Linked DNA regions of Homo sapiens. The protein of the gene in region 1 interacts with the protein of each later gene in a pairwise test. Each region holds a gene or a part of one and is shown on either strand. Other genes may lie near its edges.

The links.
Region 2: the proteins of CCDC57 (region 1) and AQP1 interact in binary tests that used the Homo sapiens proteins (3 or more experiments, as listed by UniProt).
Region 3: the proteins of CCDC57 (region 1) and C19orf44 interact in binary tests that used the Homo sapiens proteins (3 or more experiments, as listed by UniProt).
Region 4: the proteins of CCDC57 (region 1) and TSEN54 interact in binary tests that used the Homo sapiens proteins (3 or more experiments, as listed by UniProt).

Annotation. Positions count from the first base shown.
Region 1 is NC_000017.11:82,195,284-82,203,225, forward strand, and holds part of CCDC57 (coiled-coil domain-containing protein 57), read right to left. Parts: intron 6,670-7,942; coding exon of another isoform or gene 6,662-6,669; coding exon 6,255-6,661; intron 3,142-6,254; exon of another isoform or gene 3,140-3,141; coding exon 3,031-3,139; intron 1,814-3,030; exon of another isoform or gene 206-1,813; intron 82-205; coding exon 1-81. UniProt on the Homo sapiens protein: Pleiotropic regulator of centriole duplication, mitosis, and ciliogenesis. Critical interface between centrosome and microtubule-mediated cellular processes. Centriole duplication protein required for recruitment of CEP63, CEP152, and PLK4 to the centrosome.
Region 2 is NC_000007.14:30,921,541-30,926,646, reverse strand, and holds the end of AQP1 (aquaporin-1), read right to left. Parts: intron 4,582-5,106; coding exon 4,417-4,581; intron 4,084-4,416; coding exon 4,003-4,083; intron 3,198-4,002; coding exon 3,018-3,197; 3' UTR 2,821-3,017; coding exon of another isoform or gene 2,638-2,820; 3' UTR 1,131-2,637; downstream 1-1,130. UniProt on the Homo sapiens protein: Forms a water channel that facilitates the transport of water across cell membranes, playing a crucial role in water homeostasis in various tissues.
Region 3 is NC_000019.10:16,512,884-16,520,825, reverse strand, and holds part of C19orf44 (uncharacterized protein C19orf44), read right to left. Parts: exon of another isoform or gene 7,820-7,942; intron 7,813-7,819; coding exon 7,717-7,812; intron 6,330-7,716; coding exon 6,163-6,329; intron 3,597-6,162; coding exon 3,525-3,596; 3' UTR 3,485-3,524; intron 2,933-3,484; exon of another isoform or gene 1,668-2,932; coding exon of another isoform or gene 1,474-1,667; intron 1,206-1,473; coding exon of another isoform or gene 1,111-1,205; intron 733-1,110; 3' UTR 678-732; coding exon of another isoform or gene 561-677; 3' UTR 463-560; coding exon of another isoform or gene 319-462; 3' UTR 1-318. Other genes in the region: CHERP (calcium homeostasis endoplasmic reticulum protein), read left to right, coding at 319-462, 561-677, 1,111-1,205, 1,474-1,667.
Region 4 is NC_000017.11:75,511,888-75,519,906, forward strand, and holds the start of TSEN54 (tRNA-splicing endonuclease subunit Sen54), read left to right. Parts: upstream 1-4,640; 5' UTR 4,641-4,673; coding exon 4,674-4,729; intron 4,730-4,858; coding exon 4,859-5,023; intron 5,024-5,121; coding exon 5,122-5,185; intron 5,186-5,273; coding exon 5,274-5,357; intron 5,358-5,669; coding exon 5,670-5,768; intron 5,769-7,107; coding exon 7,108-7,160; intron 7,161-8,019. Other genes in the region: CASKIN2 (caskin-2), read right to left, coding at 1,824-1,917.

The DNA.
Region 1 (7,942 bases):
TGTGTTGCTCATGTTGTCAGCCTGCAGACGGAATTCGTGCTCCCTCTTCCGCATTTTCGATTCAAACTCCAGCAGCAGTTCCTGGAACAAACAGGTTTCATGATGAAAGAACAGTGGGAACCCAGCAAAGACCCCCACCCACGTCCTGGGAGGTGGGATCCAGAGGTGAGCAGGACACAGTGTTTAACAGAGAAGGACCACACACACTGTCCAGGAGAGAAGCTGGGGTCAGCGACACTGGTAACAGCACTCTGGGAGGCCGAGGCGGGAGGATCGCTTGAGCCCAGGAATTCAAGACCAGCCTGGGCAACACAGTGAGGCCCTGTCGCTACAGAAAAAAAAAAGAAAAGAAAAAGAAAAATCCTTATCTCCATTGAGTCAATTCTACCTCTGACAATAACAAACACCAAGATCTTCCAAAACAAGACAAGAAATCAGAGCAAAGGAAACCATGAAACTGACAAGCACGTAAGACCCTAGCTTAGTAACTAAAAGGCTGAGATGCCGGCAGTAGAACAGAGCTTCCCGACAGCCAGTGCCAGCATCCCAGAGCCCACACAGGATCGGACTACCCAGAACCACACCGGATGTGTGCTGCCCAAGTTTCCCCTAGTAACCAAAGCTGCCACGTTAAAACGTCACGTTTCCTTCTTTCCAGAGACAAGGATACTATCTGAACATGATAAAAAATCCATGTTCCCAACGTCTGAGATGGCTCTCCCTGAACGAGCCCTGCTGAGTCTGAGAAATTCGGCGTGGACAGCCTGGGAAGTCAGCCATAGTCACGGCCCAGCCAGAAACTCTGACAAGAATGGCTGCGCCCTGCCAACTACAACCAGCCTCAAATCGCCACTGTCCCCAGATGCTGCCAAGAGCCCCCCACCTGCTGGGCAGGACCACCCACAGCTGGATCCTCCTCAAACTCCTTCTTTGGAAGTGACTTTGGAGCCACTTGAGGAAGCCTCACTACTTAGAAAAGTCACCACTGGTCTCTTACTGACCACGGATTTTAGACGCTGGCTTCATGCCTAAAGAACTCCGGCTGTTCTCAAACTCATCCATAATCGACAAAGCTCTTTGGTTTCTGAGAATTCCAAGAGAAAGTCCTCTGCAGGCCATTTCAGAAGCAGCCTCAGGGACCTGTGAACAACGGGAGTGAGCTCAGCACTTCCGGGGACAACTGGACAGTCCACAGGAGGGCCCATCATGACGTGAGCGTGGCCTCCTTCTCTGCTGACCTGACTGTGGCAAATTAGTGACACACTGGCCTATCCTACTATGACCAAGCTCCCAACATCCGACAGGACCAGAGAGGGGACCCTGTCACACCTGCACAAAGCCCTTCATCACTGCTGCACCTGCACAGACGCAGCCCCTTATGACACCCCCATAGACACAGCTTCTAGTAACACTTACACCTACCTGCATAGACAGAGCCATTTATTACACCTGCACCTGCAGAGACGCAGCCCCTCATCACACCTGCACCTTCACAGAAGAAGCCCCTCAGGACACCTGCAGAGACGCAGCCCCTCATGACTCCTGCACCTGCAGAGACGCAGCCCCTCGTGACTCCTGCAGAGACGCAGCCCCTCATGACTCCTGCACCTGCAGAGACGCAGCCCCTCGTGACTCCTGCACCTGCAGAGACGCAGCCCCTCGTGACTCCTGCACCTGCAGAGACGCAGCCCCTCGTGACTCCTGCAGAGACTCAGCCCCTCGTGACTCCTGCAGACGCAGCCCCTCATGACTCCTGCAGAGATGCAGCCCCTCGTGACTCCTGCAGAGACGCAGCCCCTCGTGACTCCTGCACCTGCAGACACACAGCCCCTCATGACTCCTGCACCTGCAGAGACACAGCCCCTCGTGACTCCTGCAGACGCAGCCCCTCGTGACTCCTGCAGAGACGCAGCCCCTCATGACACCTGCAGAGACGCAGCCCCTCGTGACACCTGCACCTGCAGAGACGCAGCCCCTCATGACACCTGCACCTGCACAGGCACAGCCCCTCATCACACGTAAACCTGCAGAGATGCAGCCCCTTGTCACATATGCACACAGTGGCAGCATCTCTGACTGTGGTCTCTAGATATAAATCTATAGGATGTCTTTCAACAAAACCCCAGCACAGCTGAGTCTCTTGGAGGTGTAGGCTGAGTTTCCAGAACATTGAGGAGAAATTCGGTGACTGCCACTTTTCAGTTGAAGCATCTGTTTTTAAACTTATCATAATTGAATTCCAAATTCTTTTCCATAGTAAATAATTCATGTTTTTAAAATTATACCTTTCTAAAAATAAATTTAAAAGTTTCATCATTTCTGAGGTGTGCTGGTTAATTCCATGTGTCAAATGACTGGGCTACGGGCTGCCCGGATAGCTGGTAAAAAATTATTTCTGGGAGTGTCTGCAAGGGTGTTTCCAGAAGAGACTAGCCCTCCTCCTGTGGATGGGCGTCATTCAATCCACTGAGGGCCTGAATAGAACGAAATGCAAGGAAGGGTGAACTCGCTCTCTCTGCTTGAGCTGAGACACTCGCCTTCTCCTGCCCTTGGACATTGGGCTCCTGCATCTTGGGCCTTCAGAGCTGGACCAGGACTCACATCAGTGGCTCCCTGGTGCTCAGGCCTTTGCCCCTGGGCTGAATTACACCACCAGCTTCCCAGGTTTTCCAGCTTGCAGATGACAAACTGTGGGACTTCATGGCCTCCGTAACTGCACGAGTGAATTCCTACAATTTATCTCCTATATATCTACACGTCTCCTATTGCCTGTTTCCCTGGAGAACCCTGACTAATCCATGAGGAAAGAAAACAAGGAAACACTGTGGAGGTGGCTGCATGTAGACATCCCATCCTGTTTCCCTGCAGACCATCCCAGAGTGGCATCTGCCCCAAAGACCCCATTTTACTCCCAAGGAGAATGCAGGCAATGAACCAAATGGTTGTCTTTTCCTCAGCCCTATATGATTTCAGTTTCACAGTGGGCAGGCAGGGAAAGCACCCAGGAAGGGGCCGACCCAGAGGCTCTACCTGTCTCTGCAGAGCAAGCTCACCGTCGAGCTCCTCAAGTTTTCTCTCCAGTGTCCATTTTAGATTTTCATACTGTTCCCGGTGGTGGTCAATCTCACCATTCTTGTCACTATGGTAATAAAACAGCATTAAGAAAAGCCATACCAAATATTCAGCAAAGGTAATACATTTTCAAGGTGCACTTGACATGTGAAAGTTGGTGCTTTGCTTTTATGAAGGGGTGGCTTCAGCAGGACCCACGGGGTAGCAGAACTTCCAGCCCCACCTGGACCAGCATGCTACACCCATCTATAAAAGAGGAAATTAAATAGGGCCCAGAGTCTCACAACATAAAACCCAAAATGTCCAGGATACAATTAAAAAAAAAACCTGACAACCAAAAACCGGAAAGATCTGACCAGGCCCAGTGGCTCACGCCTGTAATCCCAGCACTTTGGGAGGCCGAGGTGGGCGGATCACAAGGTCAGGAGATCGAGAGCATCCTGGCTAACACGGTGAAACCCCGTCTCTACAAAAAAATACAAAAAAAATTAGCCGGGCGTGGTGGCGGGCGCCTGTAGTCCCAGCTACTCGGGAGGCTGAGGCAGGAGAATGGCGTGAACCCGGGAGGTGGAGCTTGCAGTGAGCTGAGATCGTGCCACTGCACTCCAGCCTGGGCGACAGAGCGAGACTCCATCTCAAAAAAAAAAAAAAAAAGAAAAAGGAAAAAAAAGAAAGATCTGAGCTTGAAGGAGAAAAGATAATAGGTAGATGCCAACACCAAGATGACACAGACGCTGGAATTCTTCAACAAGGAAGCTACAGCAGTCATTATAAAAGCGCTTCAAGTAATCTAGTAAAGCAAATGGAAAAACAAATCTCAGCAAAGAAAAAGCTATAGCAGGCTGGGTGTGGTGGCTCACGCCTGTAATTCCAGCGCTTTGGGAGGCCAAGGCAGGTGGATCACCCGGGGTCAGGAGTCCAAGACCAGCCTGGCCAACATGGTGAAACCCCATCTCCACTAAAAATACAAAAATTAGCCGGGCATGGTGGCACACACCTGTAGTGACAGCTCCTCGGGAGGCTGAGGCAGGAGAACCCCTTGAACCCCGGAGGCAGAGGTTGCAGTGATCCGAGATCGCGCCACTGCACTCCAGCCTGGGCGACAGAGCAAGACTCTGTCTCAAAAAAAAAAAAAGAGTGTGAGACTGAAAAAGTACCTGAACATGGCTGAAAACATCCCAGGTTTGGAGAGAAGAATGAGCAAAAGACTTGAAGAGACACTTCACAACATAACGTAAAGCACTTTTAAAAGGATGCTGTAAACACTCTGGAAAGCAGCTATGAGAAAGTCAGCACCCGCACGGCGGGCAAGTGGGCCTCAGCTGTCCAAGCACTGCACGCACCTGCACGGACTCGGCGCCCAGACGAGGTGCAGGCTGAGCACCAGCCTTCATGCTGGGGACGGGAGCTTCCAGACACCCTCCCTCCACTCAGGGAGAAGCTGACCTCCAGCTCAACTCTCTCTTTCCCTGGACACTGGGCAGGTGGCACACGGGTGTCTACCACATTAGCAAGCAGCACTGCGTGGGTCAAATGACTGCTGACTGGCACTTTTTATCCACGCCGCGAGATGCGATAGAGAGAGGGACCATCAACACTGTGGGCTTCCCAGAAGACGGTGGCGCTCAGGGTACATCTGCTGCAGGGACTGCAGACGCGATCCCTGCGGGCTGCTACAGGAGATACTGGCTGCACAATACTGGTTGGGGCTTCTGAGCTAGAGGGGCACCACACCCACCAATGTGGGTCTCCTCTCCTTGCACCTGACCTGCCGCAGAAGGTCTCTCTGCTGGACCGGAGCACCTGGTGTGGTCCTGTTGGCCCGTTCACACCCATCTGAGACCCTTCTGAGCAAACCGGCCCAACACACACAACAGAGGGTAGCTGGTCAGTTAAAAGGGCGTGGCAGAACCCAGCGCACTGACACGAAGGACAGACACCACAAATCGATCAGGAAGTGCTGGACGCACATTTCGGAGCAGTGTGCGCAGGTGGCTCTATATGGGGCCTGGAGATGACACAACAGATTGCCCGTGGCGGCTTTCACTTCGCCATTCCACCACAGTATCTTCTCTGAGAAATGACTTTCTATGATAAGAATAGTTTACTCCTGCGGCTTTAAAAAGTGCTTTAAAAAGCTGCTTATGGCCAGGCGCGGTAGCTCACGTCTATAATCCCAGCACTTCAGGAAGCCAAGGCCAGTGGATCACCTGAGGTCAGGAGTTCAAGACCAGCCTGGGCAACATGGCAAAACCCCGTCTCTACTAAAAATACAAAAGAAAAAAAAATTAGCCGGGCGTGGTGGTGGGCACCTATAGTCCCAGCTACGTGGGAGGCTGAGGCAGGAGAATCACTTGAACCCGGGAGATGGAGGTTGCAGCGAGCCGAGATCACGCTACTGCGATCCAGCCTGGACAACACAGCTAAAAACTCTGTCTCAAAAAAAAAGAAAAGAAAAAAAATGCTGCTTATGTTAGAAGAATACATAAAACATAAAAAAAGTACCCAGGATCCTGTTAAGTGTAAACAGAGCATGCAGCCGGCTCTCCTAACGTCTGTACACACGCATCACACAGGAAGGGCCTCTGTTAATGTGCTATGATGAACCTGCGGTACTTCTGAAGTGGGGGATGGAAGAGCTTATCAGAGAAGCCTGTCCTCCTTCCTTCCTGTCTCCTCAAACTCTCCACAGCATGGCTGGGTGAGTGGAGCTGAGGGGATACCAGGCATGTGGTTGAGTTCCAGGGGCCCCACCACAGGCCCCACAACAAAGGCTTTAGGTTTTTATGTCGACTTGCCTTAAGTCAGCTCATTTAGTTTTGAAATTACTACAGACTTCCATTAAAATCATTATAAATTCAAATATGTATTAATATAGATTTATAATTAATGAAATAAATTCCAAATATTAAAACCAATCTCCATTAATTTCAGAGTTATATCAGAACCCAGAAAAAGACAGTCAGGGCATTCCTGGATCCATCCACATTAACTCAACAAACACATGTTCAGAGGCCACGAGGCACTCGGCCACTCAGACAGACCAGCTCCCGTGGCCTGGAATCAGCAGCGGGAGGAGGGGCAGTGAGAGTGGGCAGTGCTCGGGCAGCACAGCGGAGCAGGAGGCATGTGGGGGCCTCTGCCAGGCACTGCACAGGAGGGCGCGTCGGTCGGTGGCTCACCTGTGGACGCGCTCCAGCTCCAGGCGATGCTCCTGGAATGCCAGCTGCTGCTGCTGCTGCAGCTCCTCCACCTTCCTGGCCTCTCTGGCTAGCGCCTGCCTCAGCTTAGCTGCCTCTATCTTGAGCTCGCTCACCTCTGCCCGCCTGGCCTCTTCCCACTCCCTGGCCTGGGCGAAGGCGGCGTCATAGCGCTCCAGCTCGAGGTCCCGCTCCTCCAGCACCTGAAGGTTGTAGACAAAGTCCTCCTGCAGGCACCGCAGTTTCCCCTGCGCCTCCTCCAGCTGGCTCCGTGTGTCCTGCAGAGCCGCCTCCTGCAGCTGGGTGCGGTGTGCCTGCAGCGCCCTCCACTCCTCCTCCTTGCGAAGCAGCAGCTCATTCAGGGCGGGCTCTGAGCCCAGTGGCAGCATGGTGGCCGCTGCAGTAAAGAGAAATCAGGTTCAGGGTGCACCGTGAGGGGCCCTAATTTTCCTACCACAGTACCTACCTCACATTCCCTATCAACAGTTACCACGGCCGGGCACGGTGGCTCACACCTGTAATCCCAGCCCTTTGGGAGGCCGAGGCAGGCGGATCACCTGAGGTCAGGAGTTCAAGACCAGCCTGGCCAACATGGCAAAAACCTGTCTCTACTAAAAATACAAAAATTAGGCCGGGTGCAGTGGCTCACGCCTGTAATCCCAGCACTTTGGGAGGCCCAGGTGGATGGATCACTTGAGGTCAGGAGATCGAGACCAGCCTGGCTAACATGGTGAAACCCCGTCTCTACTAAAAATACAAAAAATTAGCCTGCTGTGGTGGCACGTGCCTGTAGTCCCAGCTACTCGGGAGGCTGAGGCAGGAGAATCGCTTGAACCCAGGAGGTAGAGGTTGCACACCAGCCTGGGTGACAGAGCAAGACTCTCTCTCAAAACAAAATAAACAAAAAAAAAAGGCCAGGCATGGTGGCTCACTCCTGTAATCCCAGCCCTTTGGGAGGCCAAAGTGGGTGGGTCACCTGAGGTCAGGAGTTTGAGACCGGCCTGGCCAACATGGTGAAACCCCGTCTCTACTAAAAATATAAAAATTAGCCATGCATGGTGGCGCATGCCTGTGATCTCAGCTACTCGGGAGGCTGAGGCAGGAGGATCACTTGAACCCAGGAAGTGGAGGTTGCAGTGAGCAGAGATCGCACCATTGCACTCCAGCCTGGGCGACACTAAGACTCTTTTCTCCAAAAAATTAAAAAAATAAATTAAAAAAAAGAAATCCAGGGGAAGTAGAGGAAGGGAAGATGGGAAACATGGTTTGTCCAGCTATAAGAGCTAGGTTCTATAAAATAGCTTCAACGCAGCACTCTGTCCATTTCACAGCTGAGAAAACTAAGGCTGCTAAGTGGCTACGTGAGGACTGACAGCAGGTCAGTCCCTCAGAACCAATGCCCCTTCCCACCCAACACCCTGCTCCTGGAAGATTCACCACCTGATATGGTTTCGATATTTATCCCTGCCCAAACCTTTGTGGAATTGTAATCCCCAACGGGGGAGCTGGGGCCTGGTGGGAGGTGTTTGGATCATGTGGGCGGACCCCTCGTGGCTTGGTGCCGTCTTTGTGACAGTGAGTTCTGGGGAGATTTGGTCATTTCAAAGTGTGTGGTGACAATGAGTTCTAGTGAGATGTGGCATCTCTCCACCACTCACACTCCCCTCTTG
Region 2 (5,106 bases), on another chromosome or scaffold:
CTGGGCCCATAGTGGTGATTGGGAGGGCTTCAGGCCAAGAAGAATGGGACAAATTAAGGAGACAAGCTGAGAAGGGCTGTGAGAGATAGCCTCGGCACACCCTCACAGGCAGGCCTGGGATGCAGCGGGCTGGCCCATACCCAATTCCCATAGCTTGGCTGGCACTCTGCCATTTATATGCCCCTCTTAAGCTGGGAGATAAGCTTCCTTATCTATTAAATGGGCTAGAAGTTCTTGCAAGGGAACGGAAAAGAGTGTGCAGATGTGATGCACTGATTTGCAGGGACTTAGACAGCCTAGTGACCCAGGGCACACTTAAATTAGAAACCCTGTTCCATCAACATGGCCTCAGTCTTCATTGCGGATGCCTAGCCCCTGGCTCCCTGAGACCCAGCCCCCCTTATATCACCATCAGCCAGGCATTCCACAGAGGGGACAGGAACCATGTGTCTCCCAGGAGCAGTGCTGGGGCCCCAGGACCTGTCCATACACTATTTCCTGCCTCAGCCCACTGCCGTGGTGATACCTGTTCCCTATTATCAGGCACTACTAAGTGTGTGTGCACGTCGGGAGGGTCAGGAGCCAGGGTCCCAGTCTCAGCCTGAAGTAGCCCTAACTGCACTGGGCTCTGATGAGTGAGTCTGTCTCCCATGAGACGCCCAGCCCAGGTCAGATGGGTTGCAAATGTGAGTGGAGGGAGGGAGGAAGGTGGAGCAATCCCTAGTGTTCCCTGGGCCCTGCTCTGTGGAGGGTAGAGGGGATGAGGGGGCTGTTAGACTTCAGCCCTGCTTTCCCCCATCCCTTCCATACTCCGGAATCAGAAATGGCTCCCATCGGTCCATTTAAACTGATCAGAAGCCTGCCCCTTTTCCCTGCCCCCAGGTCTCCAAAGTCATCCCACTGGGCTCTGGAAGTCTCCTACTAGGGGCAGGACCCTGTGTCCCTCAGATGGGGTTCTGTGGTGTGGCTGTATCCATTGCCTGAGATCAGGGGTCTTGAAGGCAGAAGGGGAGGCAGTGGCTCCTCCTCAGACTGGGTCTCTAGCAGTGGCCTGATTTCCTTGTGGAGTAATCCAGAAACATTTGTGGGGACACAGCATCAAAAGAAGAAAAACTACAGGAAGCCTGAAGGACCTTACAAGTCATTTTCCTTTATTTTCTTAACATATAATGAAATTCCAACTCCAAAGAGACATATATGCAGAGCAGACAGATGCAGGGCCTTGGTGTGCAGCAGCCTAGAACCAGGCAGGGGGTGGGTGTGACCCCTCTCCCCTCCATCACAACTCTCCCCACTCCTGGCCCCTGGCCATTGCCCAGGCAGAAACTGAGAAGCTGGAAATGAGAGGAATCAGCCTCGTGGTCCAGGGAGTAGCCAGAGACAGGGCCTTGGTTACTAGGCCTGGCCAAATCATTGTCTAGCTGAAACCGTGGGCCTCAGTTTCTTTATCTGTTAAATGAGCTAGAAGTTCCTGCTAGGGAATGGAGAAGAGAGTGTGCAGATGTGATGCACTGGTGATAGTTAAGGGCCTTCTGGTTGTCCCTCTGCTTCTAAATACCTGCGTAATTGTGTCTCTTGGTTTCTGTTGCCATCATGGCTAAGTGCACAGTGGTGGAGCTGCTCTGGCCCTGGTGGAATTGAAAGGACTTATGTAGATAGAATCCAGCCTTCAAAGCTGATCCTGATCTCTGAACTGTCCTTGGGCTGCAACTATAGCTACCTCATTAGGTCAAGGCTGACCTCTCCCCTCCAGGTCAATGCAGAGGGAAGGCTGTGGCCAGGGGTCATACAGCAAGCCTGTGCAGGTTATTCAGCTGCTCAAATGCCTCTGATCAGGAGCTCATGAGCAAGGGAAGAGCTTGCTCCATCCTGGTCAGGACCAGCTGAGGGCTTGGAAAACCCCCAGGCCCAGCAAGGGCATCTGCCTCCATGGGCTGACCTGCATCAGGGTCTTTCTGTCCTCAGGCTTTGGGCTTCAGACAGCTCAAGTGCTCTTTGATAAACATACACCAGCATAATGGTGACCTGTGTCTACACTGACAAGAGGGAGTAGAGAACTGAAGAATGAGCAAGATAATGCAGTGATAGATGGAAAGACCAACTAAAACTCAGAGAAGTAACATGGGTATTTCTCCTTCACCCTCTAAATGGCTTCATTCTGCAATAGCAGGCCCTGTGTAGGGAAGCCTCTCCATAGGGAACAGAAAGTTCCAACTACCTGGCTGTCTGTCGATCTCTGCTTTGTAGCCTGTCTGCTCTGCACACATGTACACAGAGGCGTGTGGCGACAGTCATGCCCCTGGGGAAAGAACACAGGGCAAGTGGAAAGAGCAGCCCTGGTCTAGACCACGTCTTCTGGACCCATGCTGTGTTTGCACTTAGGGGCTGCAGGCCTGTAGAGCTCTGCCGGTCCCTGCCACTTTGCAGAAGGAGGTCACTCAGGCCCTGATATAGGGACGATTCCAAGGTCAGGCAGTAAGTCCGAGCGGGTCAGGGGCTTGGGAGCAAGCAGAACTGAAGGAGCAAAGCTTGCCCCCTCCACTGCACCTCCTGGGATCTCTTCCCCCTCCAAGCACCATTGGGAGCAAGGTGCATGTTAGGAAAAGAAGGAGGGCCGTGCCCAAAGGCACAAAGCAATTACGGTAGAATCCCAGGCACTTGCGCAGGTGAGTCGGTGAGCAACTTTGGGGCGAGGGGGGACTTTCTGGCACACCTCCCATCATGCTCTGAGGGGCGACTAGCAGGTGGGTCCCTTTCTTTCACCTCCTCCACAACTTCAAGGGAGTGGGTGAATTGGTAAATCTTGGTCCCCAGGAAGCTCTGAGGCCAGGAAACAGAAAGAGAAAGAAAGAGATAGAAACACCCCCATAAGAGGCTTGACCATGCAGGTCTGGCAGATCTTGGGGAAGTGACTTTGGCCAGCTTGTCAGAGTGTCTACAGTATGGATTTCACCCCTCCCCTCCCTCCGCCCGCCCCTGCCCCTGCCCCCTACGTGGATGCCCGGGCCAGACCCCTTCTATTTGGGCTTCATCTCCACCCTGGAGTTGATGTCGTCGGCATCCAGGTCATACTCCTCCACCTGGCCGCTGGTCCACACCTTCACGCGGTCTGTGAGGTCACTGCTGCGTGGGGCCAGGATGAAGTCGTAGATGAGTACAGCCAGGGCTCCCCCGATGAATGGCCCCACCCAGAAAATCTAGGAACAGAGCAGGTGTGTTCAGAGGGCTCCACTCAAAAGCCCCTGGGAAGCGTTCCCTAGGTTACCCCACAGCCCACCACCCCGTTGGACAGGTTTTTCCCACCTGGGATGGAGGCAGGTAGGAGAGCCAAATCCTAACATCATGATTCCGGTGCCCCTCAGAACCGGCCCAGGCCAGAGTACGTGGTAGGGTCAACTCCTTGCCTCTGTGGGGCCCAGCTCAGGCATGGGCAGTAGCAGCCCCTTCTTGAGGAAGGCCACTGCCCCCACACTCCCAGCTTTGGAAGGGCCCCAGAGACCATTGTCTAATGCAAAGCTGGCCTAGCACATCCACATCCACAACCATAAGAGCTAAAATCCACTGAGCGCCTCCTCTGTGTTGAGCTCAGTTTACAGATGGGGAGTGAGCCCTTTCCTCTTCTCGGCCACCCTGAGAGGTGGGCACCACCATATCCCCCTCCGCAGCTCAGGAAACCAAAGCTCAAGCACACTGCGCAAGGTCATGCTAAACCCGAAAGTGGCTGAGCCAGGATTTGGAGCCCCACTTTTAACCACGCAGCTGGGAAGACCTGGAGGCCAGGCAGCATGGGGCAGGGCCGAGCTGGGAGGGCAGAGACTAGGCCTGAAAGTGCTGGCAGTGTGACCCCCAGCCTGCCTCTACATGGCAGGCCTCAGTTTCCTGATTTCCTGTCCTCTGGCTGTCTCCCAGAGCCTCCAGAACAGGAAGGGACACTGTGAGGGTGGGGTCAGGCTTACCATGGGACACCAAAGCTTCCCACCCCACCCCCCGTGGGTCTCCTACCCAGTGGTTGCTGAAGTTGTGTGTGATCACCGCGGAGCCAAAGGACCGAGCAGGGTTAATCCCACAGCCAGTGTAGTCAATCTGTGAGGGAAAGAAACAGAGGGAGGGGCGAAGGCAGAGAGTCATAGGTGAAGAGAGAGTGAGAGGAGGGAGAGGTTGGAGGGAGAAAGAGAACAATCAGGGTGGGGGACAATGAGACCCAGGGAAAGAGGAGTGCTGACCCCAAGCTGGGCAGGAGGTCCCTGTGCTCCTCTCCAGGGCAGGACCCTGCCCCCAGCCCCCAGCGCTGACCCGCCATCCTCCACCCAATGGCAAGAGCCCTGTCGGGAGTCCCACTGGCTGCCCATGGCAGGGCACCCCACCAGCCCCCGCCCTCCCTTCCCCCACCTCCATCTGGGAGGGCCCCTGACTCACAGCCAGGAGGTGTCCAAGGGCTACAGAGAGGCCGATGGCAAGGGGGGCTGAGCCACCAAGGTCACGGCGCCTCCGGTCGGTAGTAGCCAGCACGCATAGCACCAGCTGGAGGGTCCCGATGATCTCGATGCCCAGGCCCTGGCCCGAGTTCACACCATCAGCCAGCTGCAGGGGAGAGAGGTGGTGAGGACTGGTGAGGAGGGTAGGCAGGGACTGTGTCCCAGGACCCCAAGGATACCCAGGCCTCCCAGGCCCAGGCATGAAGGGCGGACCCTCAGATGGGCCTTCAGAGCCCATCACAGGGTCCCAGGCAAGCCTACACGGCAGGTAGTGGAAATCAGGCCTTGAACCCACCCCCTGTGTTAATGAAACTCCAGCCCAGCCCCTAATACCTGCCTAGACCCAGGCCCCACTCTGCCTAGAAGCTGGAGAGGCCTGGGGTGAGCTGGGGCCTTTGCATCCAGCTGCATCCAGGCCAGGGTATTCTGGGGTACCAAGACCAGAGGCAAGGGGCGAGCCCCAGGCATGAAGGTGATGGTCAGGAGCACTCCTAGGAGAAGAGATGCAAAAAGGTGGGAAGGCCCAGCAGGGGACACGGCTTCATACCCAAAAGTCCAGAACATTCCACCCCATGCCCGACTGCATCTAAATTCCAGGGCTGAGGAGGCCTTCGGTGAGGTCCTGGCTCCC
Region 3 (7,942 bases), on another chromosome or scaffold:
GTAAAAGCGCAGATGTCTGCAGTGGCCGGGGGGCCAGGGTCCACAGCTTGTGATGGGTGGGAGCAGACCCCAGATACACTCATCACGTCCACCCTCACACAGCCTGTGCCTATGGGGCGGTGTTTTCCACAAGGCCTGAATTCACACAGCAGCAGGCTCGGCCACACTATTTAGGAACTTGGTACCGTTGCTGTGGCTATGGCGCCACATCCACAGCCAGAGCCCCTGCATCTGGGGTGGTCTAGGAACCTGAGGGCCAGGGTGGGCTGGGTGCAGCCCATCCACTGGGGCACCTGATCATCAGGCCTCTCCCCACAGCGGACCCTCGAGGTCTCGGAGCAGATCCAAGAGTCGAGGGCGTTCTTCCTCCCGCTCCAACTCAAGATCCTCCAAGTCTTCAGGCTCGTACTCAAGGTCAAGGTCGCGCTCCTGCTCCCGTTCCTACTCCCGCTCCAGATCTAGGTAGGCAGAGGCTGCCTCAGGGCAGTGCCTGAGGCCTCTTCCTGTGGCCTCCCCACGACGCCTGGCTGCTGCTGACCCTTGGGCACCCTTCCCTGCAGAAGTCGGAGCAGGTCGCGCTCCTCCAGAAGCCGCTCCCGGTCCCAGTCGCGGTCCCGGTCCAAGTCGTACTCCCCAGGAAGAAGACGCCGGTCACGGTCCAGGAGCCCCACCCCGCCGTAAGATCCTGTCTTAAGTGCTGCGCTGGTAACTCTGGGAAGCTGCGGTGCTTTGCTGTGAATGTGGAAACATTGGTGGTTAGGAGACTGTGTTAGGAGGCCGCCAGCATTAGCCCGGGGACAGTGGCACCCCTCACCCTTCACCACAGTAGCCACTTGGCGAAGCCTGAGGCAGTAACTGGGGTCTGCTTTCTAACCACCATCTGGGTTGGAGGTGTCCTGCTCTCAATGCTGAGCGTGGGGTGGGGGCCAGCGTCTGGAGCCCCCTTATCTAGCTGAGACAGGATAAACGGGTAGAGACGCAAAATCTGCATACGGTGTCACCTGGTGACAGTGAGCATGCACGCAAGCTGCGGCTGTGAGGTCCTCATCACTGTCATTCCAATAAATGTCTCAGTTACTTCTTAAAAAGAATAACCTGTCTCGATTTTAGTTCCTCTGCTGGTCTGGGTTCTAATTCGGCGCCTCCCATCCCTGACTCAAGGCTCGGAGAAGAGAACAAAGGCCATCAGATGCTGGTGAAGATGGGTAAGGCGAGGGAATGGGGAGGGCGCGGGATGGGTCCTCACGCGTGCTGGGCCCGGGAGTCACCAGCGCTTTCTCTTCCTCAGTGCATGTGGGGATGGATGGAGTCAGGCCGGTTCTGACTCCACCCAGACCCTCTAGACAGGGCCGGCCTGCGGGTTCTCTCTACCCATTTCCCATGTCTACACTGCCTGTCTGGACATTCAGCCCCCCACGTGCACCCCCATCTGCCTCCGCCTTGTTGTGGTTGTGACTGCGTCTCTGTTTCCAGGCTGGAGCGGCTCAGGCGGCCTCGGTGCGAAGGAGCAAGGGATCCAGGACCCCATCAAGGGCGGGGACGTCCGGGATAAGTGGGACCAGTATAAAGGCGTGGGCGTGGCTCTGGATGACCCCTATGAGAACTACCGCAGGAACAAGAGCTACTCCTTCATCGCCCGCATGAAGGCCAGGGACGAGTGTAAGTAGGCGCCCATGCCGGGAGCCGCGCCGGTGGCCAGCGGTGCCGGCTGTGGGACCTTCCTGGCTGACTGGCAGAGGAAGATTGCAGTGACAGCTCAGTTCTTACACCGTCTCCACTTGTGGAGAGCCACAGGAAGAGAAGGAAGACCAGCGCATGCCCAGTGGGAACGCCGTGCTCCATGGCGTGGAGGGCACGGGTGCCACCCACAAACCACACCAGGAGGCGCTGCAGCCACCAGGGCCCCAGGCTCGTTTTCCTTTATAGCGAAGCAAAAAACACAAGACCCTCCGCCCGAGTAAATTCTTCAGCCACGAAGGGATGGATGTGCATCTGCCCTAAGTCAGATTGAAGCCTCCTCCTAGGCTCCAGGAGGAGCATGTGCAGGAAGGGTTGGCCTGAGCCAGAGCCGGCACCCCAGCTCCTTCCTCCAGCTCCCCGCACCCACCGGCCCTGACCTGGCTTCCCCTCGGCTGTGTAGGGACAAAGCCGAAGCCCAGTGCCATGACTGCCCGCGGATTGAAAAACAGAAACACAAAACTTTGACTTGACTTGCGAAGTGAAGCAGGGTTTTCATTTTTACTCTCCTTGGTTTAGGTCTAGAAAGAAGAATACTGACCTGAGAGGAGGCCCAGTGAGATTCTGAAACCTAATTCTTCGAAGGCGTACTGGCCCTTAGTTCAGTTATTTTAGTTGTATAAGTTGATATTTTTTTTCTGGAATGTAGCCATTTGCTGTTATCTGGGAAACAAGATTCTAACAGGAAACCAGCCTAAGACACTTCAGGTTGAGCGCTGCCTCGGAGTCTGTGCCCGTCGCGTCCCCTGCTTGAGTTTTGCACTTGGAAGAACCCTGCACCGGCTGGCGTGTGCGACGGCCCAGTCCCATCCAGAGCATGGAGCCCGACCCCAGCCAGCGCCTTCCACTCCATCATTTCATTTCACACCCCCGAAGGGAGGGGAGGCCAGGAGGGGAGCTGCTCCTGCCAGAAGCTGGTGGGTGACCGTTGGGAATCGGCCACACCTGGTGTCCATGGGCAGCCTGGTGCAATTCCATTCATTTGTACAGAAACATTTTTGAAAAATTCTTTTCAATAAGATGCAAAATCTTCCAACTTTTCAACCCAACGTGATGAATATTTGATTTTGTTCTAGATTTCCTGTAGCTGTGAATTGTTAAAATGTATGATTCAGGATAAAACGTAAACACGTGCTGTTAGTAATTTCTTGTGGATTTCATTGTTTTGCCTTCAAATAAAGCCTTTTTTTAAAGACCTTTCTCCCGCACATGTGTAAGTCAGAAGTGTGCACGGGCTGAGTGAGGAGACACATGTCCTGGTTTGAGCTGTGCAGCCTGGGGTCAGAGGCCGTGTCCAGGGGCTCACATGGCGTCCCCAGCGTGCTGACCTGGTCCCATGTCCTTACCCTCGAGCAGGGCTTCTCCCATCCACCCTGTCTCCCTCTGGCTCACTGGGATGCCAGGACCTGCCTGGGTGGAGCTGCTCTGCAGAGGCTGGTGGCCCCTGTCCTGCTGTGAGTGGGGACAGCTCCACTGAAATTCTATTTCCACTGGCCTGTGGTGTCATAGAGCTGGGCATGCTGCTGGGAGAGCTGTCACTGAGCTGGGATTTGGCTCAGAGGAGTCTGGGGCCCTCACCGCAGCACCACCTGCCCCACCATGGAATGTCACACCTGGATGCTGACTGTGTGTGTGTGTGTCCATCACCCCAGTACCACCTGCCCCCACCACGGAACGTCACACTTGGACACTGATGAGCTCTATGTTTGTGTGCGTGTGTGTGCACTGAGTACACAGGACGGGATACCTTTTGTTAAGACGTCACGTCAAGCTCCACCTGCTGGCGCTCACAGCTCCTTGTTCACCTCCTCCAGGGCATCCTCCATGGTCAGTGGGGCAGGTCTGTGGCACCTAATGTACTGTCAGGCAGAGAACAGACCACGCCATCACCATCGTCACCTCAGTACACTCTGAGACAGGGTGCTGGAGGAGGGAGTGGAGCCAGCACCTGTCCCCAGCAGGCTCCTGTCAGTGACAGAAGTGTAAAACCACAGGATGTGTGTGACAGGTTGGCGCACGGGGCTGTGGGAACACAGGGTAGAGGGTCAGCCCTGCGAGGGGTGAGCCCTGACAGAGAAAGGGAGGGGTGCCTGTGAGTGCCCTTGGAGTGGCTGAGATCAGGGAGAAGCGCCTGGAGCAAGCAGCTGGGAGCTATGGTGGGCTGCAGCCAGGTGGCACAGTCAGATGGCTTCTGCCTGCATCGGATGGGCTGATGGACGCCCAACAGAGGCATGAGTTCAAAGCCCCCAGAGGGCTGCAATGAGCAAAGTTGACATTGTAGAGACCCGTGGGACTCACAACCTGCCCTCTTCAGCAGATAAACCACAAGGAAACGAGAGGCCTGGCATGCAGGGGACTCGGCACAGTTCCAAAGCAGCGTCCCGGGGCATGTGGGAGAAACGCCTAGCTCCAGGCCCACCCCGCCTGCTTGCGGGCCCAGCATCGCTTTCACAGGGCTTCCAGGGGATCCCCAACCGCTCAGCATTGAGAACCGGTCGCTGCTCTAGATTAAGAGGCTCAAAGGACATATCGGATAGTATGGACTTTGGATCCGAATTACCAAATCGGAACAAAACACACAACTTTAAATCAGACAAGCAGAAATCTCAACACTGGATATTCCTTGATACTTAGTAAATTTGGTTTGTGTATTATTGCATTATGGTTGTTTGTTTGAGACAGAGTCCCGCTTTCTCCCTCACTACAGCCTCAACCTCCCCAGCTCAAGTGATCCTCCCACCTCAGCCTCCCAGAGAGCTGGGACTACGGGCACACACCACTATGCTAAACTTAAACTAGTTTTCTTGTATTTTTTAATAGAGATGGAGTCTTGCTATGTTGCCCAGGCTGGTCATGAACTCCTGGGCTCAAGCGACCCACCCTGCCTCAGCTTCCCAAAGTGCTGGGATTACAGGAATGAACCACCACACCTGGCTTTAACATCACTTTTTAGAAATAAACACTGAAAAATTTGTTATGTAAAATGTTTAAAGCAGGGGGCGGTGGCTCACGCCTATAATCCCAGCACTTTGGGAGGCCGAGGCAGGTGGATCACCTGTGGTCGGGAGTTCAAGACCAGCCTGACCAACATGGAGAAACCCTGTCTCTACTAAAGATATGAAAAATTAGCTGGGCATGGTGGTTCGCACCTGTAATCACAGCTACTCAGGAAGGTGAGGTAAGAGAATCACTTGAACCCAGGAGGCGGAGGTTGCAGTGAGCTGAGATTGCACCATTGCACCCCAGCCTGGGCAACAAGAGTGAAACTCAGTCTCAAAAGAAAAAAAAAAGTTTATGAATAGATCACCATAAAGGACTGCATATAGTATAATGCCATTTCTATAAAGAAATACGTGGCCAGGCATGGTGGCTCGCACCTGTAATCCCAAAAATTAGCTGGGCATGGTGGCAGGCACCTGTAATCCCAGCTACTTGAGAGGCTGAGGTAGAAGAATCGCTTGATCCCAGGAAGCGAAGGCTGCAGTGAGCTGAGATCACACCACTGCATTCCAGCCTGGGCAACAAGAGCAAAACTCCGTCAAAAAAAAATTTTAAAAAAAAGAAATACGCATACTATGGTTCATACAAGAGTCTGAAGGAGTATATATATCAGCTTGGTAATAGTTACCTCTGAAATTAAGGAGAACTTGCAGGTTACACATCTCTGCAACAAGATTTTCAGAAAACAGCCACGTAATTTTTGGTAATCAGATTTTAAAAAGTTTTTTTGAGACGGAGTCTTGCTCGTCACCCGAGCTGGAGTGCAGTGGCACGATCTCAGCTCACTACAACCTCCACCTCCCAGGTTCAAGCGACTCTCCTGCCTCAGCCTCCTGAGTAGCTGGGACTACAGGCGCCCGTCACCATCCTGGCTAATTTTTGTATTTTTAGTAGAGATGGGGCTTCACCACGTTGGCCGGGCTGGTCTCAAACGCCTGACCTCAAGTGATCCACCCATCACAGCCTCCCAAAGCACCAGGTGTGAGCCACGGCACCTGGCTGGTAATCAGATAAAAATTCTTAGAGGGTAAAAAAAGAGGTGAGGGTGATTGCTGAGGAGAACAGCTGGGCCGCCTCTGGCCCCATCTCGGGGATGTCTCAGGAGGCTCAGGGAAAGGGACAGGACCCCTCCCATGGGAGAAAACAGTGCCACGAACAGTAGGTCCCTTTAGTCTGAGGTCACACAGCCCAGGCGGGGCTGGCTGCAAGGTGCAGGAGCTCAGCACCCCACCCTGTACCAGCTTTTGCCACAGGGTGGCAGGAAATGAGGCTCCCTCCACAGGGACAGGTGATGGCCCCACTGCATCCCTGCAGCCCTGGGCTGAGCGCTGGAGCCCAGGCCCCGGCCCATATCCCTTCGGCCCGGCCTCTGGGAGCTGCCGCTCCCCTACTGCCCTGCCCCTGCCCATGGGGAGCTGCGCTCACCTCTTTGGCTTCCTCCAGGGTGTGGTAGTGGAAGGAGTCCGCGTCCAGGGAGCGCAGGAGGGAGGCGTGCAGGTGCCGGCTGGCCTGGATGAACTGCTGCGTCAGGCTCAGCTGCTGCTTCAGCACATCATGGAGTGCCAGCACGGCCGGGCTGTAAGCGGTCAGGGCTGACCCAGCTCCGCGTTACTCGGTGGCTTCGCTGGGGCCCCACAAATTCTGCAGCCCCCCCCCCACCGCTCAGGTGCCAGGCTGCTCTCTGAAATCTTTTTTTTTTTTTCTGGAGACAGGGTCTCGCTCTGCCACCCAGGCTGGAGTACAGCGGTGCCATCACAGCGCACTGCAGCCTCGAACTCCTGGGTTTAAGCAACAGTGGCTCACACCTGTAATCCTAGCACTTTGGAAGGCTGAGGCAGGCGGATCACAAGATCAGGAGTTCGAGATCAGGAGTTTGAGACCAGCCTGGCCAACATAGTGAAACCCCATCTCTACTAAAAAAACAAAAAAAAAAATTAGCCAGGTGTAGTGGCAGACACCTGTAGTCCCAGCTACTTGGGAGGCTGAGGCAGGAGAATCGCTTGAACCTGGGAGGCAGATGTTGCAGTGAGCCAAGATCACACCACTGCACTCCAGCCTGGGTGACAGGGCAAGACTCCGTCTCAAAAAAAAAAAATTAAAAAATTGAAAAGGGAAAAAAATAGTAGGTACCAGATGGACCCCTACGTGTATCACAAGCCTTTATTGGCTCCACTGGACTCGACAAAGACTAAACTCTCTAAGATGGCTGCTGGGGCCCCTCCCTCATGCCTCAGGCTGGACTGGAGCCTTTGTGAGGGCCACACAGACTCAGCCCAGGAGGCAAGGGAATGTCTACCCAGGCTGTGCAACTCAGCATCAGTCAAATACATGTCTTCAGGGGAAATAAACTATGGCTTATTGATGTAATGCCACCAAGGGGAACATACAAAACAAAAGTGGTCTTGTGCCAGGCAGGGCGGCTCAGGCCTGTGATCCCAGAACTTTGGGAGACCGAGGTGGGCAGATCATTTGAGGTCAGGAGTTCGAGACCAGCCTGGCCAACATGGAGAAACCCTGTCTGTACTAAAAATACAAAAATTAGCCGGGCGTGGTGGCAGGTGCCTGTAATCCCAGCTACTCGGGAGGCTGAGGCAGGAGAATCGCTTGAACCCAGGAGGCAGAGGTCCCAGTGAGTGGAGATCGCGCCACTGCACTCCAGCCCGGGCAACAGAGCGAGACTGTCTCAAAACGAACAAACAAAAAAAGTGGCCTTGTTGGGGTGCAGGGCACAGAAGCATCACTCTTCACCCTCTTGTTTTGTGTGACATTGGTGTCTCTTTGCAAGAGACAGAAGGTTCAAGGGCATCCACACCTTTTCTCTCCTCATGGCAGGTGCCTGTGGCTGCAATAATCCCTGCCCAATGGACCCCTGGAAGCCAGCATGCAAGGGGTGCCACACCTCCAGAGTGGGTGTGAATCTGCAGGTGAAATGAGTCCTGTAAAATGTGACAGGAAGGATCCCCCGAGCCGGGCTGTTACCTTCTATTGCATCTGCACTGATAACATGATTGGCGATGGGTGTCGGGTCCACGTAGGCGCCTCCCAGGGCAGGCCCCATGGCTGCCATGCTGGCCACTATCTCGGGGACAAAGAGAGGGGTAAGCAGGCAGGACGCAGAGAAATGACTTTCGGGTCCACAGATACGACCCTGGAATAAACTACGTGACCTTGTTCTTCCCTCTTTCTGAAGGTGATCGCCACTCTT
Region 4 (8,019 bases), 6.7 Mb from region 1:
GAGGCCAGCAGCAGCTTGACCAAGGCCCCACTGGGCAGGTTGCCAAAAACAACACAGAGGTGACAGAAGAGGGGAGTGGCTGCACTGCTGGACCTTAGGGCCCTCCCCTGGGACCTCCTTAGCACCTCCCCAGTGGCACCCACCCTGTGTCCACTTCCCTAGGCACAGAGACCACCCCACAGCTCCACCTCTCCAGGCCCTGCGTCTCCTGCCCCAGTGTGCTAGTGGATGCATGAGGTTAAGGCCCTTCCTCTGGCACCCATACCCCAGGTGTTCAGGTAGCCTGGGGGACTCCTTCCTGTGCACAGGACCGAGGTGTATCTTGGGGCTAGAGCCCCTGAACTCCAGAGGAGACCTTCCCATCCAGGGAACTCCTCCTGCCTCAGTCTGGTGGCAGGAACCACCTCCTGCCTATGCTGATCTGGGATCTCAAGGTGACAAGTCCAGCGGCCTCCTGGGACAGCCCAGAGAGCCCTCCCTGAAGCCCAGAGGTCTATTCTCCCTGTGGGGGGTCGCACCACAGAGGTACCCAAGACATGGGGCTCAGGTGTGGCCGCTTGTGCATGGATCCCCCACAGCCCGGTCAGGTCTCGAGGCTAGGTGAAAATCTCCAGTAAATGAGCTCTGGCCACACCCCACCAGGACACACATGTCAGGGGAAGAGAAACTTTAGCAACTTGTTAGAGAGTGTTGAACTTTTTTTAAGCAGTAGAATTCCCTTTTTAAAAGCTATCTCGTGGCCTGGTGCGGTGGCTCATGCCTGCAATCCTAGCACTTTGGGAGGCTGAAGCGGGTGGATCACCTGAGGTCAGGAGTTCGAGACCAGCCTGACCTAGATGGTGAAACCCCGTCTCTAGTAAAAATTAGCCAGGCGTTGTGTCAGGCACCTGTAATCCCAGCTACTCGGGAGGCTGAGGCAGAAGAATAGCTTGAACCCGGGAGGCAGAGGCTGCAGTGCGCTGAGATCATGCCACTGCACTCCAGGCCGGGTGAGAAAGCAAGACTCCGTCTCAAAAAAAAAAAACAGCTATCTTATAGATATCCTCTTAAGACACGAACATAGAGGTGCTCTGGTTGAAATGTGTGCGTTTGAGGTTGGGGGTAGGGATGAAGTTCTATCTATTCAGTCTTCTCTAACCCACTGTCAGAAATCTCATGGCTCCAAAGAACACATCAGAAAGACCATCTGCTAGAAGGCAACTCCACGAAGACAGGAATTTGGGTCTGTTTTGTTCACTACTATGATCCAGTGCTTAGAACAGAGCCTGAGCCAGGCACAGTGACTCACGCCTGTAATCCTAGTACTAGGAGGCCTACCTAGGTGGGTGGATCACTTGAGGTCTGGAGTTCGAGACCAGTCTGGTCAACATGGTGAAACCCCCATCTCTACCAAAAATATAAAAAAAAATTAGCCGGGCATGGTGGCACACACCTGTAATCCCAGCTACTAGGGAGGCTGAGGCAGGAGAATGGCTTGAACCCAGAAGGCGGAGGTTCCCGTGAGCCGAGATCCTGCCACTGTACTCCAGCCTGGGTGACAAGCTATAGGCACTCAATAACAATGTGAATGAACGTACTTCAACCCTCTAATTTTGCAGGCCAGGAAACTGCAGCCCAGAGAGGTTAAGTGACTTGCCTAAGGACACACAGCAAGGGGGACCCAACTTTCTCTCTGGCTCTCTCACACAGAGGCACTTCTTACTGAGAACAAGACAGTCCACCCTCCTCAAATATGCAGATCACAGTGACCCACCCCCACCCACCAAGCCTCTGTGAACTGAGCGCTCGGCCTCAGCGGGATGCTCGTCCCACCCGGTACTCACTTGTCTTTGTGGCCTTGACCTTCGCCACCAGTTTCTGCACACCGGTCACATCTCCATTCTTGACGGCGAGGATCAGGTCCTGTTCACGACCCATACTGGCTCCTGGGCTGAGCTCTACACTCAGGAGTCCAGGGCAAAGGCAGGCAACGGGTCCAAGCTGGGGCGTCAGGGCGCCATGCCACAGCCCCTTGGAGGGCTCCCGGTTCCGGGGGAGCAAGTCAGGTGTCCCAGGCAGTGGGCTCCTCGTCAGGTACTGAGGGATACTCCCAAAGGTGCTCCGTGAACTGCCACCACACGAAGGAAAGCTAATCTTTGAGGGGGTGAAGGCTACATGGAAATCTGGATGGATATCAGCTTGTGGCTTCCGACAGCTCCAGGATGGGCTGGGACTGGGCACACCAATCTTCCCGGCTTGGCTGTGGAACACCAGTGCCCACCCAGAGAGCAGCCAGCATTCCCTTGGGCCTCAGGCAGCAGCGGTGCACTGGTCTCAGGGCTCTGGAAAAAGCACGGGGCCTCTGTCGAATGCTGGGCCACAGCCTGCAAGGGTCCCAGAAGTGGAGTGCAGAGGATGAGCAGGACAAGACCTCCAGGGAGCCCCCAAGCCACCCTGGCTCCCCTCGGAGTCGATGGTGATGCTGAGCCACTGAAAGTGGGGAGGAAGCTGCTATGCATGAGAGGAGTATTGGTGGGGGGGAGGTGGCATTCTGGGAGGGGGAGGCTGAGTCACTGGGGCCCCAGGGCACCTGGCAGTACCTCAACCTTGGGCAGGAGGGGCCCTGGCAGCATGACATACTGGGGCAGGCCGGGCCAGCAGCCTGTTCTCCACAGCCCGAGGCTCCGACACCCACAGACAACTGGCGGGCCAGGAGGTGGGGCCGGGAGGGTCAGGCACAGGCAGGCGGGCAGGGGTCACTCCCTGTCAAAGGCACCAGCCCCCAGATTCCTCCCTACGGAGGCTTCAAGGCTTCGCTTTAATGGCTGGATGCCCTAGTCCTAGGACTCTTTGTGAACGGAGAGCATGAAGTGCTTCTGGCCCCCCATTTCTGGGGGCTCTGCCTGCTAGAGAGGGAAGCTGCACAGCACCTGTTGCTGACCCGCCCTCGCCCCTTGTGTCGGGTGGAGGAGCAGCTGGGCAGAGAACAGAGAGAGCTGGGGCACTGCTGACAAACGGGGCTCCCAAGCCCCCCAAGCCTGAACCTGAAGCCCAGACCCTGGACTCCACCGCAGAGAAGCTTACGTCAGTTTCTCGGTGGCAGCGAATTTACTGCCAGAGTCTTGTGGCATGAGATCCGCGCAGGCCTGGGGCCCTGGCCGGGAACCCCTCACTCCCCAAACGTCCCAAGCCCAACCCAGGGGCACTCCCACGCGGAGCCCGCGGCCGACACGGGCGGAGGGCGCCCTTGGCAGTGCCTGGGGTCGGGCTGGCTCCCCCGCCCCCCGGAATGTCCCTCCAGCGCCTCGCAACCCCCCAGCCCAGCCCAGCCCAGCCCAGGCCCACCGGGGAACAAAGCGGCGGGAGAAGCCGGGCGGGCCAAGCGCCCGAGGTATAAACGCGGAGGATGGAAAAAGGGGCGCGAGGAGGACGGAAGGAGCGGGGAGATGGAGGTGCCCGCCGACCCCGCAAGAAAAGTTAGTTTGCGCCCGCCCCCAGGGGCGCTGACCCCCAGCGCGGGCCCCGCAGCCTCACCTCTCCCGGCCGCCCGCCGGGGTCCGGCTGGCCCTGCTCGGTCCCTGGCACTCAGGACGGTGGCTCCCACTCCCCCCTGCCCCCCTTTCTCCTTCTCCTTTTCCAAGGCCGGCTCGGCGCCTCCCGCAGGAAATCCCGCCCCTCCCCCCTCCCTCCCGCCGGATCGGGAACGGAGGGACCGTCCCGGCCGCGCAGTCAGGCTGTCAGTCAGCACCGGCGGCTCCGCCCCCATCCGCGCCAGATCCCGCCCCAACTCGTGCCCGCCCGGACCGGGGGCGCTGACCGGATCAGCGCATGCGCCCAGGTGAAACGGAGGGGCGGGGGGCGCGGGGGCAGAGGTGACCTGGGGCTCTGGACTTAGACCCAAGGGCTAGACACCCCGGGTCTGACTGGTGGGAGAGAAGACGTAATGTGAAGGGGGTTGGCAACCAAGACGCGGGACCCCACTTGCAGTACCCCCCGTCTGCGGCCGGCGTCGCCCACCCGCAGCCGCCGGCCGGGCAATGGCACCACCTAGCGGACGGCACCAGTGCGGGGACCCCAGCCTCGAGGAGGCGCTCGTGCCGGGCGGAGGTGGCGCTTCAGCACCGTCGTGGGCCGGACAGCGCCTCCCGCCCCCGGCCCTCGAAACCTGGCTTCGGAGCCCAGCCGTAGGGACCGGACGGAAGACACCGAAGGAATGGCGAACCTCCCCGGACCGCTCCTGACAGTTCCCGGGTGGCCTTCGGCCTGCAAAGTCGGAATTTGCACACCCTCCGCTCGTCCTTCCCTGAGCCCTTCTGCCCTCCTTGCCCAGCCCGGGCGGTGGGGACTAAGCAGCGCGAGGCTGCAGAGGGGCGGTCACAAGTGTGACCATTCGCACTGCACTCCAGACGCCGGCTCCTCAGGCTTTACTGGAGAGAAGCCCCGAGGAGGGCTAGGGGCAAAAGAGGGGCCTTCTGCATCTCCAGCAACCTGCGGGCTGAGCTCCCAGACCCGGCGTCGGGGTGCGCTTCCGGGCGGGCGCTAGGACCGGGGACAATCAGGAGGGCGCAGAGCGGGCTGGGGCGGTGCAGGGGGCGGGGCTGCCGCGGCATTGCGGATCGGCGGGCACTAGGGCAGCGCGGAGCTCCGGCGGTGGGCGGGGCGTGGCGGCGCGCGCAGCGGCAGGCGGCGGCGGGATGGAGCCCGAGCCCGAGCCCGCGGCCGTGGAGGTTCCCGCGGGGCGCGTGCTCAGGTGCGGCGCGGCCCGGCCGGAGTGGGTGTCGGGGGCGCGGGGCCAGCGCGGGTAGGGAAACCGGCGCCCGGGACCCGGCCAGGCGGCCCCCGATGCGCGGCGCTGACCCCGCGTCCCCTTCTCCCCCAGCGCCCGGGAGCTCTTCGCCGCCCGCTCGCGGTCGCAGAAGCTGCCCCAGCGCTCGCATGGCCCCAAGGACTTTCTGCCCGACGGCTCGGCAGCTCAGGCCGAGCGGCTGCGCCGGTGCCGGGAAGAGCTCTGGCAGCTGCTGGCAGAGCAGCGCGTGGAGCGCCTGTGAGAGGGGCGGGCCCAGGGGTAAGGGAAGCGGGGGCGAGGCGGGCCGCGGGGTCTCCGGAATGGACTGACGCAGACCCCTCCCCACTCCTCGCCAGGGGCAGCTTGGTGGCTGCCGAGTGGAGGCCAGAAGAGGGCTTCGTGGAGTTGAAGTCTCCCGCGGTGAGCGGCGGGCTCGGGGACCGGGGACCGCCCTCCCTGCCCTCCCTGCCCTCCCTCCCTTGTGACACTTGCTCTGGGCCCCACACAGGGCAAATTCTGGCAGACCATGGGCTTCTCAGAGCAGGGCCGGCAGCGCCTTCACCCGGAAGAGGCCTTGTATCTTCTGGAGTGTGTAAGTGGGGCCCGGGAGGTGGGGAAGGAGTTGGGACCAAAGAACGGGAAGGACACGTTTTATCGGAGAAAAAGCACACACAACCCGGTCTTTAGAGAACTGATAACCAAACTTCTAAAGCAGGAGGTGGTACGTTGCAGGGAGCAGGGATTCCAGTCCACATTAGTGATGCTGCCCCACTTTCCTGGTTGGCCACATTCTTGATGCGCTGCTGAGAGGGGGAGGGGGAGGTATCAGAGCTGGGAAGTTGCCCCATTCCTCTGTGGCACTGTAGTGAGGGCTCATAAGCTGAGCTGTTGGCCCCACTTCCAGGGCTCCATCCACCTCTTCCACCAAGACCTGCCACTGTCTATCCAGGAAGCTTACCAGCTGCTGCTGACCGACCACACTGTGACCTTCCTGCAGTACCAGGTATCTGCCACCACCCCGCCTCCGGGAGCCACCCATCCACTGAATCAATGAGTATTGACAAGTACCCATAAGGTGCCAGGCACAGTGTCACATGCTGGGGCTGCAGGGCAGACGAGGGCTATGCTGTCACGAGGCTTACATTGTGGTGGTGGCCTGTTGGCTTCACATAGACCCCAGTGCTGTCAGAAGATAAGGTGGGGGAAGAGAATCCAAAGAGACTGGGCTGTTCATTCAGGTGAGAGAAGCTAGGGGCTTGTCGCAGGTTGGGGGTGGGTAGAGTTGCAGTGAGTGAAAAATAGATGAATCTCAGAAATATTTTGGAGAAAGAATGGATAGGACTGCCAATGGATTGGATGTCAGGATTAAGGAGAGAGAAGAACCCAGGATTACCGCCCATGATTTGGGCATGCACCAGTGGATGAAGGTGCTGTCATTTTCTGAGTGGGAAGAATGAAGAGGAGCAGATTTGGGAGGACAAGACCAGTCGAAAGAACTGTGTCAGATAAGTTAATTTTGAGGAGCTTCTTGGACATCCAAGTGAGTGTAAAGCAGACAGACAATTGGAATCCAAGTCTGGAGTGTGAGGAGAGGTCAAGGCTAGATGTAAATATGGGTGCCATGAGCACATGGATGGTATTTAAACTACTGGGCTGTATGGGAGTGCCATCAGAGTAGAGGGCTGGGTCTGAGCCCTGGGGCTCTCTGTGTAGGTTAGGGGGCAGATAAGAAGCAGAAACAGACCGAGGAGTGTCTGGTGATGCAGGAGAAAAACCAAAGTCGCATCACAGAAGCCAAAAGAAGGTCTTTCAAGGAGGAAGTGGTTAGCTGTGCTAAAGCCTGCTGAGATCAAGCAGGATGGGGGACATTCTTATCTATGTTCCTCTGATATGAATGCAGGGACACAAGGTTGAATATGTGGCTCCCTACCAGAAACTTCCCACCGGCATCTGTGGAGGTGTGGGGCTGGAGAGATGCCCACCACCTGCCATCATTTTGTTCACATGGTGATCGGCAGCTTCACTCCTATGAGCTTTGTATCAAAATACTCAAGTATTTCAGGGCGTGGTGGTTTTCTGGTTTCATGGCTATCAGTTTTTTTGGATTTGGCTAAATGTCATTTGTGCCGAGTAAGGTAAGTGGGAGGACAGGAATTCAGAGCCTGAGATCTTTAGGGATGGTGTTCGTAATGAAGCATGGTCCAACCTTAATCACAGGGTTTAGAATCTGGGGGTGTACAGGAGGGGCAGAGAGGGCTGTGGGGATGGCCTGTGTCTGGAGAAACCATTTGGTGTTTTCCAGAGTGGCCATCTGAGCTTTCATTTTTTTTTTTTCTTTTGAGGTCTTCAGCCACCTGAAGAGGTTGGGTTATGTGGTTCGACGATTCCAACCAAGGTAAATCCCCTTCCTGTTCCCCTTCCATATATTCTAGTCCTGGGACCTGGCTGACTAGTCTAAGGTAGAAAATGGCCTCTCCTTACCTGGAACCCTTGGCTGGAGTGCAGTTCCTTGGGCACAGACTGGGGGCGCCTGCTGGAAGCGTTCTGAGAGAGGCAGGTTGGGAGGAATCCAGGTCATTTTGTTTTATTCTGGTTTATGAACTCGAGCCGCATCTTCAGATGACCTGCGCCTGCAGCTGAGTGTGTGTGAGCACTGAGAGGCAGGATTGGAACAGTGCCTGGCACTTAGTAGGTGCGCAGGCAGGTATGTAGAGTGTATGCTTAAATGAAGGACTGGGTGAAGAATTTACCATTAGTAGGGTTTCACATTTTTCATGCCAGGTTAAATGTTTTTTCCTTCATCACCTTAGTAATCCAGCATTGGTAAAAGGCAGAGACCTTCAGACTTGGAGTGGAAACGGGTACAGCTTTTGCAGTTACAGTATGTCACAAAAGCTCTAAAGCAGGCACATCTTTTCTTTTCTTTTTGAGACGGAGTCTCACTCTGTCGCCCAGGCTGTAGTGCAGTGGCATGATCTCAGCTTACTGTAGCCTCTGCCTCCTGGGTTCAAGCAGTTCTCCTGCCTCAGCCTCCCAAGTAGCTGGGATTACAGGCGTGTGCCACCATGCCTGGCTAATTTTTTTATTTTATTTTATTTTTAGTACAGATGGGGTTTCACTGTGTTGCCCAGGCTGGTCTCGAACTCCTGACCTCAAATGATCCTCCCGCCTCAGCCTCCCAAAGTGCTGGGATTACAGGCATGAGTCACCACGCCCAGCTCTACATCTTTTCTTTTCTGAAAGTGGAACCTATC